Homo sapiens: one gene and its partner. The protein of the gene in region 2 purifies or fractionates together with the protein of the main gene of each other region. This does not show direct contact. Each region holds a gene or a part of one and is shown on either strand. Other genes may lie near its edges.

Region 1 (3,652 bases), about 170 Mb from region 2:
ACTCATCTTCCATTTCAGACCCCATGTTTACCCAAACCCAGGATCTCCAATCCTAATGAAGTATCCGGTGCATAGGTTGTCTTTGAAAAATGTTGGTTGAATAAATGGGACACTGGACCAGCCCTAGGACTGTAGTTAAACCCGGGCCCTGAGGGCCACATCTCCCTGATGCTGCATGAGTTGTTGTCTGGAACATATGGTACATACCTCTTGGACTGTCTGTCCAGGGTGAATCCGGAAGTTGACTGTGGCCTGGGCCACTGGGGGGATGACATTGAACTAGAGAGAGAAGCACAAAACCCTGGCTTGAGTCAACCTCAAATCTTCTACATCTGCCTGCCCAGGAAATGCTAATTTCCTCAGCTCAGGCAGAGTTGGCTGATTTGACTTAAGGACCCAAGGCTTAGCTTTTCTAGTCTGCCTCTTGTCTTCTCTGAACTAAGTGACATGTTATATTCAGAGCTGAAGGGGTGTCTCTGCTTTAAGCCAGACCTTCCTGCTTCTTGGTGCTGCAGGGGGTCACAGAGATGTTCAGAGCAAGGCTGCTTTCTCTGATCACCCAGATATCTCTGTTTTGGCCCCATGCTGTGCTATTAGAAGCCTTCTGTGTGCACTTTCTTTCCCAGCACACCCAGGACATTTCTGCAGCTGTTAACATTAGTGCTTACTCACGATGGGGCAGCCAGAGCCTCTGTTGACCCCCATCATGGCATAGCACGGGGCTCACATCAGGTTTGATCCTTGAGGGGGATGAGAAGAACACATACTCCTCACATATTCCTGGTCAGGCAGGAACAAAAGAGTGACAGAAAAGTAACCTTCAGAGTAAGAAAAGGACCCTAGTGCTGGCCAGTGCTCTGCCTGTTCTCACCTATTCCCAGCCAGTGACTGAGCCAAGACAGAGGGATCTGGCTTGTTCTCTAGGGCTGTTAGTATGTTTCTGAGACCCTAAGACCTAACATAACCTTTGGGAGCTGGTTCCCTCTTATCCTTGAGGCTGCTGAGCAATTGTTCTAACCAATCAGATAAGCCAGTCAGGCAGTAATTGCCTCCCCATTCCCGACCTTCTAGCAGGGATTGGTGGTTTCCCAGGTCCAGTTGTAAAATCTGACTTTTTTGCCTGACCAGGAGGAATCCAGGACTAACTGGAGAAAAGAGTTAGGCTATGGAGGGATTGTTCCTTGGAGGCCGGGAGACTCCCCAAGTGCATATCTTTCTTTGAACTCGTATGGTGCAAAAAAGCACTAAGTGGTCAGGGACAGAGCTGGGCTGTTGCAAATTAGCTGTTGCAACCTCTTTGTGCCTCTGTTTTCTCAACTGGGTATTGGGGCAATACTCATAGGACTCTTAGAAGGCTCAGATGGAGTAACAAAGTATCCTGGGGAGATGAAAACACCATTCAAATGTCAGGACACAGTGCTATTATTCTGATGAACACTACAGCTGACACACTGGACGGTCCAGTGAGTTATGCCAGGAATTAATTCAGAGGCATCATTCACTTATATACCCGATTACTAGAGTGCTTCAAGGTCACATTGTACTCTAGGTGAATGGTGCCCCCTGAAGTTGTGCTGGTGGTACTGGCAGTTACAAGAATGGTCTAACTCCCTTCAAGATTTCAGAAAGGCCTATGTCTTTGCGTGGCTAGGCTTGGATCCAGCTGACACACACAGAAGGAAGGAAGAGCCAGTAGATAGATTCAAGGAAGGGAGGAGTGGAGGGCGGTAGGGAAAAGCTATATGGGGAGGAACCAGGGATGTTACCTTGACCCCTGCTTTGAATATGGTGAGTGCCGTGGTGGTCCTGATTATTGCATTGGTTAAGGGATTTCTCTCCATAAACCTAAAACAAAAGGACCAAGGTCAGATGTTAGAAAGAACCAATGGGGTGAAGGAAAGGGCGGAAACATTACCCACTTTCCTGAACCTTGGGGATCTTTAAGACTGAGAGAGACGTCTTAGAGATGTCTTAAATATACACACTTAGAGATGCAGTATCTGGTGGCTGAGGGATGATTAGTCAGGCCCAGTTAAGCCAAGGAGAGGGGCCTGGGGGGTGGGTAGGTTTGAGGTGAGGGATGTGAAAAAAGGAAAGATAATACTTTACCTGCTTATAAGTGGTTCAAATAGCCATGGGTTGCTCAGGATTATATTGACAGGGAAGGGAAACTGGGAAAGAACAAGGTCAGCACCACAGGGTCACCTCTAGTTTAGCCTGGGTCTCTGAGACCTGAGTCTCTCTCTACTTTAGAGCTGCCTCAGGGGCCCTTAGCAGTCAGGAGTGCTGCTAAATTCAGTTAGCTCAATCCCTGCTAGAGGATCAGGAATAGGGAGGCAATTACTGTCTGGCTGGGCTTATCTGGTTGGTTAGAACAATTGCTTAGCAACCTCAAGGATAAGTGGGAACCAGCTCCCAAAGGGTAGATTAGGTCTTAGGGTCTCAGAAACACACTAACAGCCGTAGAGAACAAGCCAGATCCCTGTGTCTTGGCTCAGCCACTGGCTGGGAATAGGTGAGAATAGGCAGAGTGCTGGACAGTACTAGGGTCCTTTTCTTACTCTAAAGGTTACTTTTCTGTCCGTCTTTTGTTCCTAGCTGATTAGGAGTATGTGATACTTCTTCCCATACCTCATTTGCCAGTTGCTGCAATACAGTCACCACTGTCCCGCTTCCAAATATGATAGGCATTGGTGTCTGCTCCAATCTGGAAGAGAAACAGAGTCCTCAAGACTTAGCGAACCCCAGCCAAAGATCAGTGGCTTGAAGAGGAGAAGAAGGGAGATAGGAGGAAGTTTCAACGCTCCTGGCCAAGAGGTCTCTCATTCACCTCCCTCCCACCTCCACCAACTCAACATTCTGAAGATCTCAAAACATCCCCAGGAGCTTTCCCTGTCTACCAAGTCTGCATTAGGGTCCTTCTTTCCTCCCTCTGCTGTTCTCTAGAATCCTGTGTGTCCACTCTCATAGCCCATCCCATACTACAGCAGAATTGTCAGTCTCCTGACAATTTGAATGAATATAGCACTCCTTCCCACTTTGCTAAGAAAACCCAGCCAGGAGTAAGCTCTGCTGTTACAGATTCTGCTGTCCTCATTCATAGCCAGCAACTCTTATTTATTTTTGTCCTCCTGCCAGGACAGGTGGAGAATTTCGACAGCTCTACCAGTCATTGCCAATTTGTGATTCTAAATGTCTGGACTCTGGACTACTCTAGCTGCCTGACCTAGCTTCTGCCTGTAGGTCCTTGCTTTCCATATGGATATACTGACAGATCCTCTTCTGACTCCAGCCCTTGCAGGATACTGGTGGCTCTGTCTCTCCTGTGGCTCCCCCAACCCCCACCTTGGAAGGAATTCTCACTCCATTTGAGATGACCCCAGCCTGGTATCTGTGAGCCATGCTGAGATAACTCTTTATTTACACCTGTTGTATTAATCACCTGGATCTTTAGTCTGTCCTGGGCTTCCCCTTCTGTTCTTCCTCTAGTGTCAATTTTTTATAGCATAGTTTCCCAGCCCAACTTTAGGGCAGGAAGCTTAGCCTCCTCAAATTTAAAGTGGGAAAGTGCCAGGGCTTCCATCTCAAGTCTGGCATGGGAACAGGGCCAGGAGTTGCTTACCGGCTGACAGCAGCTGCAAGGATGCCAATG
Region 2 (3,752 bases):
AGGATGGCCTCATTCACATGTCTGTCAATTGTGCCTATAGTCACCTGGGCTGTCGCTAGCTTCTTATCCTCCAGGTCCTATCTGTCTCACTACGTGGCCTTTCCAGCAGGATAGTCCAGACTTATTTACATAGTAGCTGGCTCCCAAGAGGGCAAAAATGGAATCTGCAAGGCCTCTTAAGACGTAAGCTTGGAAACCACAGAGCACCACTTCTACTCCATTCAATTGGTCAAAGCAAGTCACAGGGCCAGCTCAGACTGGACTCCACCTCTGAATGGGAGGAATGTCAAAGTCACATTTCCAAAGGACAGGCAGGATGGAAGAGGTTTTTGGGCCATCTCTGGAAACAATCTTCTAGAAGTAAGTCTAAACACACTTCCCCCAATCCTAACATTTTATTATGATTTTTCCCTTCCTCCCACACAAGGGTTGGTTTATTCCTCCCAGGACCTGGTGGAGGCTGAGGGGATCACTCCATTCTGTAGCCCCCTCACCTCCCCAGTCAGAGGCCCTCCTAGCTAAGCCAGTGTTTTCTCCTGCTTCTCCCACCCACCCATGCACACCTCTGAGAGAGGCTGTCTGCTTCCTGGCCTGTACCTTGGGATGGGTGACATTTGTGTCTGCACCCTGAGACTAGTACAGAGCTCTGCATCAAGAGGGACAACACCCTGGAATTCCAGGATGGTAGTTCCGAGGCCCCTCTTCTGCCCTCCCTCTATCCAGCCCCTTCATGGCCTATAACAAATCACCCCAAGCTGGGCAGGTGGGGGCCTAGGAATGCGCGCCCTCTGCTGACCACCAAAGGGCCAGCAAGAATTCGGGTTCAGAGTCCCTGGGAGTCTCTCTGGCCTGGGTCCCCACCCCAGGCCAAGGTCTCGACCTGAGACCACCCGAGCCTGGTCTCAACATGGACTTCAAGGGCCCCTCCTAGGTGGTGTGGAGGAGCTGCCGGGTTGGGCCCTTCACTGAGCTCCCGCTGGGAGCAGGCTTCTGCTAGTGAGAGGAGCCATCCATGCATCACCTCCTGCCCGTCTGCCGGATGGACTGGCCTCGGAGGGAAGGGGACATCGTCAGGATCCCAGGGTCCTAGCTCCTAAAGGAAAGATGGGCAGCTAGCTTTTGGGAGGGGAGCGGCTAGCTTTTCATTTTGTCCTTTGGGGATCACTATCCTGGGGGAAAAAAAAAGTTGTCAGGCCTCTCCTGTCTCCGCGCCCTGCAGCGCCTGCGAAGAACATCATTTTCGCAATCCCCAATCCGCTGCAGCCCACAAACCCAGAGAGCCAGAGAGCCCCCCTCACCACCCAACCGGCTGCTGGCGTGGGTCGGTCGGGGAAGGAGAGCCCAGCTATCCCTCATACCGTACAGCAGTAGCAGCAGCAGCGGCAGCGACACACGGGCGACCGAGAGGGCCAGTGTGACCTCCCCCCGCCCGGCGGGCGGGGAGCCCAGCTCACACGCACAGCCTCCTCGCCGCTGCCCGCCCCCTTCCCTCGCCGGGACTCGCCTCCCTCCTGCAGCCCAGCCCCAGCCACCTCCGCGTCTACGCCGCCGCCTGCTCTGGCCGGGCCGGGTCAGAGCCGGAGCATGGAACCTGGGCAGCCCCGGGAGCCCCAGGAGCCCCGCGAGCCCGGGCCAGGAGCGGAGACCGCTGCGGCCCCGGTCTGGGAGGAAGCCAAGATTTTCTACGACAACCTCGCGCCCAAGAAGAAACCCAAATCGGTAAAAGCAATGCACGGGTATGCGGGGGACGGGGGAAGGGTTACCCCGGAGGAGGGGTCATAAGTCTCTTGGGAAGGGACCCGTGGCGCCCCTCTGGGAGGGGACGCAGCTCCTCAGCCCCAGAATGCGCCCTGCAGCTGGCGCGGGCTCGGGTTTATTTTGGGAGCTCTGCTCTGGTGTATTTTTTTACCGGGACTCGGGTTCCACGCCAGGCTCCCCCTCCCCCATGCTGTCATCAGGGCCCAGCTAGAGGCCCGCAGCCCCAGCCCCTCCCCACTCGGGCCGCCGGGGAGCGCGGATTGCACTTGTTGGCGAAGCTGGTCCGCAGCGCTTCCAGAAGCGCCCCAGGCGCGGGTAACCAGACTTTGGGAACCCGGTTCCTGGCTGTGCGCTCCGGTCTCCGCCATCTGGGCATCGGGCTCCGGACCTGAGACTCTGCGTTTGGGGTCTGGCTCTGGGTCCTGGGCCCTGGGCTGGGGGCAGTGCGCTCCCCGCGTCCTAAGGAAAGGGAGCTGCTCTCTCCAGGCACTGGGATCCACACTCTGCGCTGGGGGGCGATCGGCGCCCCTGGCCGCAGGCTCCCAGCGCTGGACTCTGCCCCCCAGCTCGGGTTCTGCTCCCCTTGCAGTGGGCATTAACATCCCCACGACCCTGTGGTGGTGTCAACCGTCTGGGACCTCACAGAGGAGCTCTCTCCTCTCTGCCATCAAACAAGTTGATGATGCCCTGGTCTGCCCCTGGACCTTGCTGTCTCCAACTTCCCAGATCTCAGAGCTTGAGGAGAAAACCGAGAATAGAGGTTGGCCCACAGCGGTCCTCCAAAGAGCTCCAGCTTGATCTTAAAGCAATTTGCTGCTTCCCTCCAAGAACCCTTCCCCAACAGGTCCACCCTATCAGCAATCATTCAATTAGCACCTCCAAGCTCTGCTCAAGAGTGGGGATTGAAGAATTAAATAACCTGAGTCCCTGCCTCAGGAGCTCACTGCACAATGATGGAGGCTCCAGAGATGAGAGCCTAGGGGAGTTGGGGGGGGAGTAGAGTAGTGACATCACACTGGGGAAAGCTTTGTAGAAGTGGCACGTATCCTGATCTTAAAGCCTGAGTAGGTGGAGTTTCCCAGGGAGAGGGAAACAGGACAGGCAAAAGTCATGCAGATGTCTCTGAAGCTCAGGACTGTGTTCCTGAATAAGTACTGAATGAAGAATGCAGGATTGTTGGAAGAAGAGCTGGAGGGATGTGGAAGAGCCCACAGAGGGCCTTGGGGATCATGTTAAGGAGTCTGGACCTTACTCAAGGGGGTCAGGGATTTCCAAACTAGCTTCCCCAAGCCCCATGTTTCAGGGAGTCTGCACACATGTGAATCCAATTTATTTTCTTTCTTCTTCGGACTATGTTTTAAACAATTAAAAATGTGTAATAAAACCCAACTCACTCTAATGTATTAGGTGGACATTTTAGCAGCTTGAAGGCCACTAGCTTGTGCTGCAGATTTTTTTAAAGCAAAGCTCAGAATAAGGCTTCCCCTGTGATCTGTTCCATCAAAGAGCGTCTTGAGATTGTAAGGCCTTTAGTTTAAAACAAACCAAAACAAAAAACCTTTTAGCATTTCCAACCACTTATTGGTCTGAATCAGGACTTTCTCAATACTGTACAAATACAAACACAGCAACAACTTGGCCGGATGCTGAAGCTTAAGTCTGCACTGGCATTCTAGCCGCTAGTTTCAAATTTGTTGTCATGCAAACAACTGTGTTGTTTTCATTGGTTGACTTTATAATAAATAAATAAATAAATGTAATGCATTTGAATCTGTAAAATAAATAAACACCAATTATATATGTTATATCTGGTACCATATGGTATGAGATATATGGTAATATCTGGCTTACATATTGAATTCAAAGTTTATTTGAATTCATTTAAATAAAAGGTCAACCTACATTTAAACAAACATATGAATACCATTATGGAGCTATTACAGGATTTTTCATCAGGGGATTAACTGGGTCCCATTTTTATTTTAGAAAGATCA

What was found. Proteins that work in one complex are often made in the same cells at the same time.
Region 1: the proteins of NT5C1A (region 2) and PM20D1 purify together in Homo sapiens (affinity purification with mass spectrometry; one large-scale study listed by BioGRID and IntAct). This does not show direct contact.

What each region holds. Positions count from the first base shown.
Region 1 is NC_000001.11:205,840,045-205,843,696, forward strand, and holds part of PM20D1 (N-fatty-acyl-amino acid synthase/hydrolase PM20D1 precursor), read right to left. Parts: coding exon 3,623-3,652; intron 2,708-3,622; coding exon 2,632-2,707; intron 2,172-2,631; coding exon 2,110-2,171; intron 1,846-2,109; coding exon 1,767-1,845; intron 280-1,766; coding exon 208-279; intron 1-207. UniProt on the Homo sapiens protein: Secreted enzyme that regulates the endogenous N-fatty acyl amino acid (NAAs) tissue and circulating levels by functioning as a bidirectional NAA synthase/hydrolase.
Region 2 is NC_000001.11:39,669,871-39,673,622, reverse strand, and holds the start of NT5C1A (cytosolic 5'-nucleotidase 1A), read left to right. Parts: upstream 1-1,515; 5' UTR 1,516-1,584; coding exon 1,585-1,719; intron 1,720-3,752.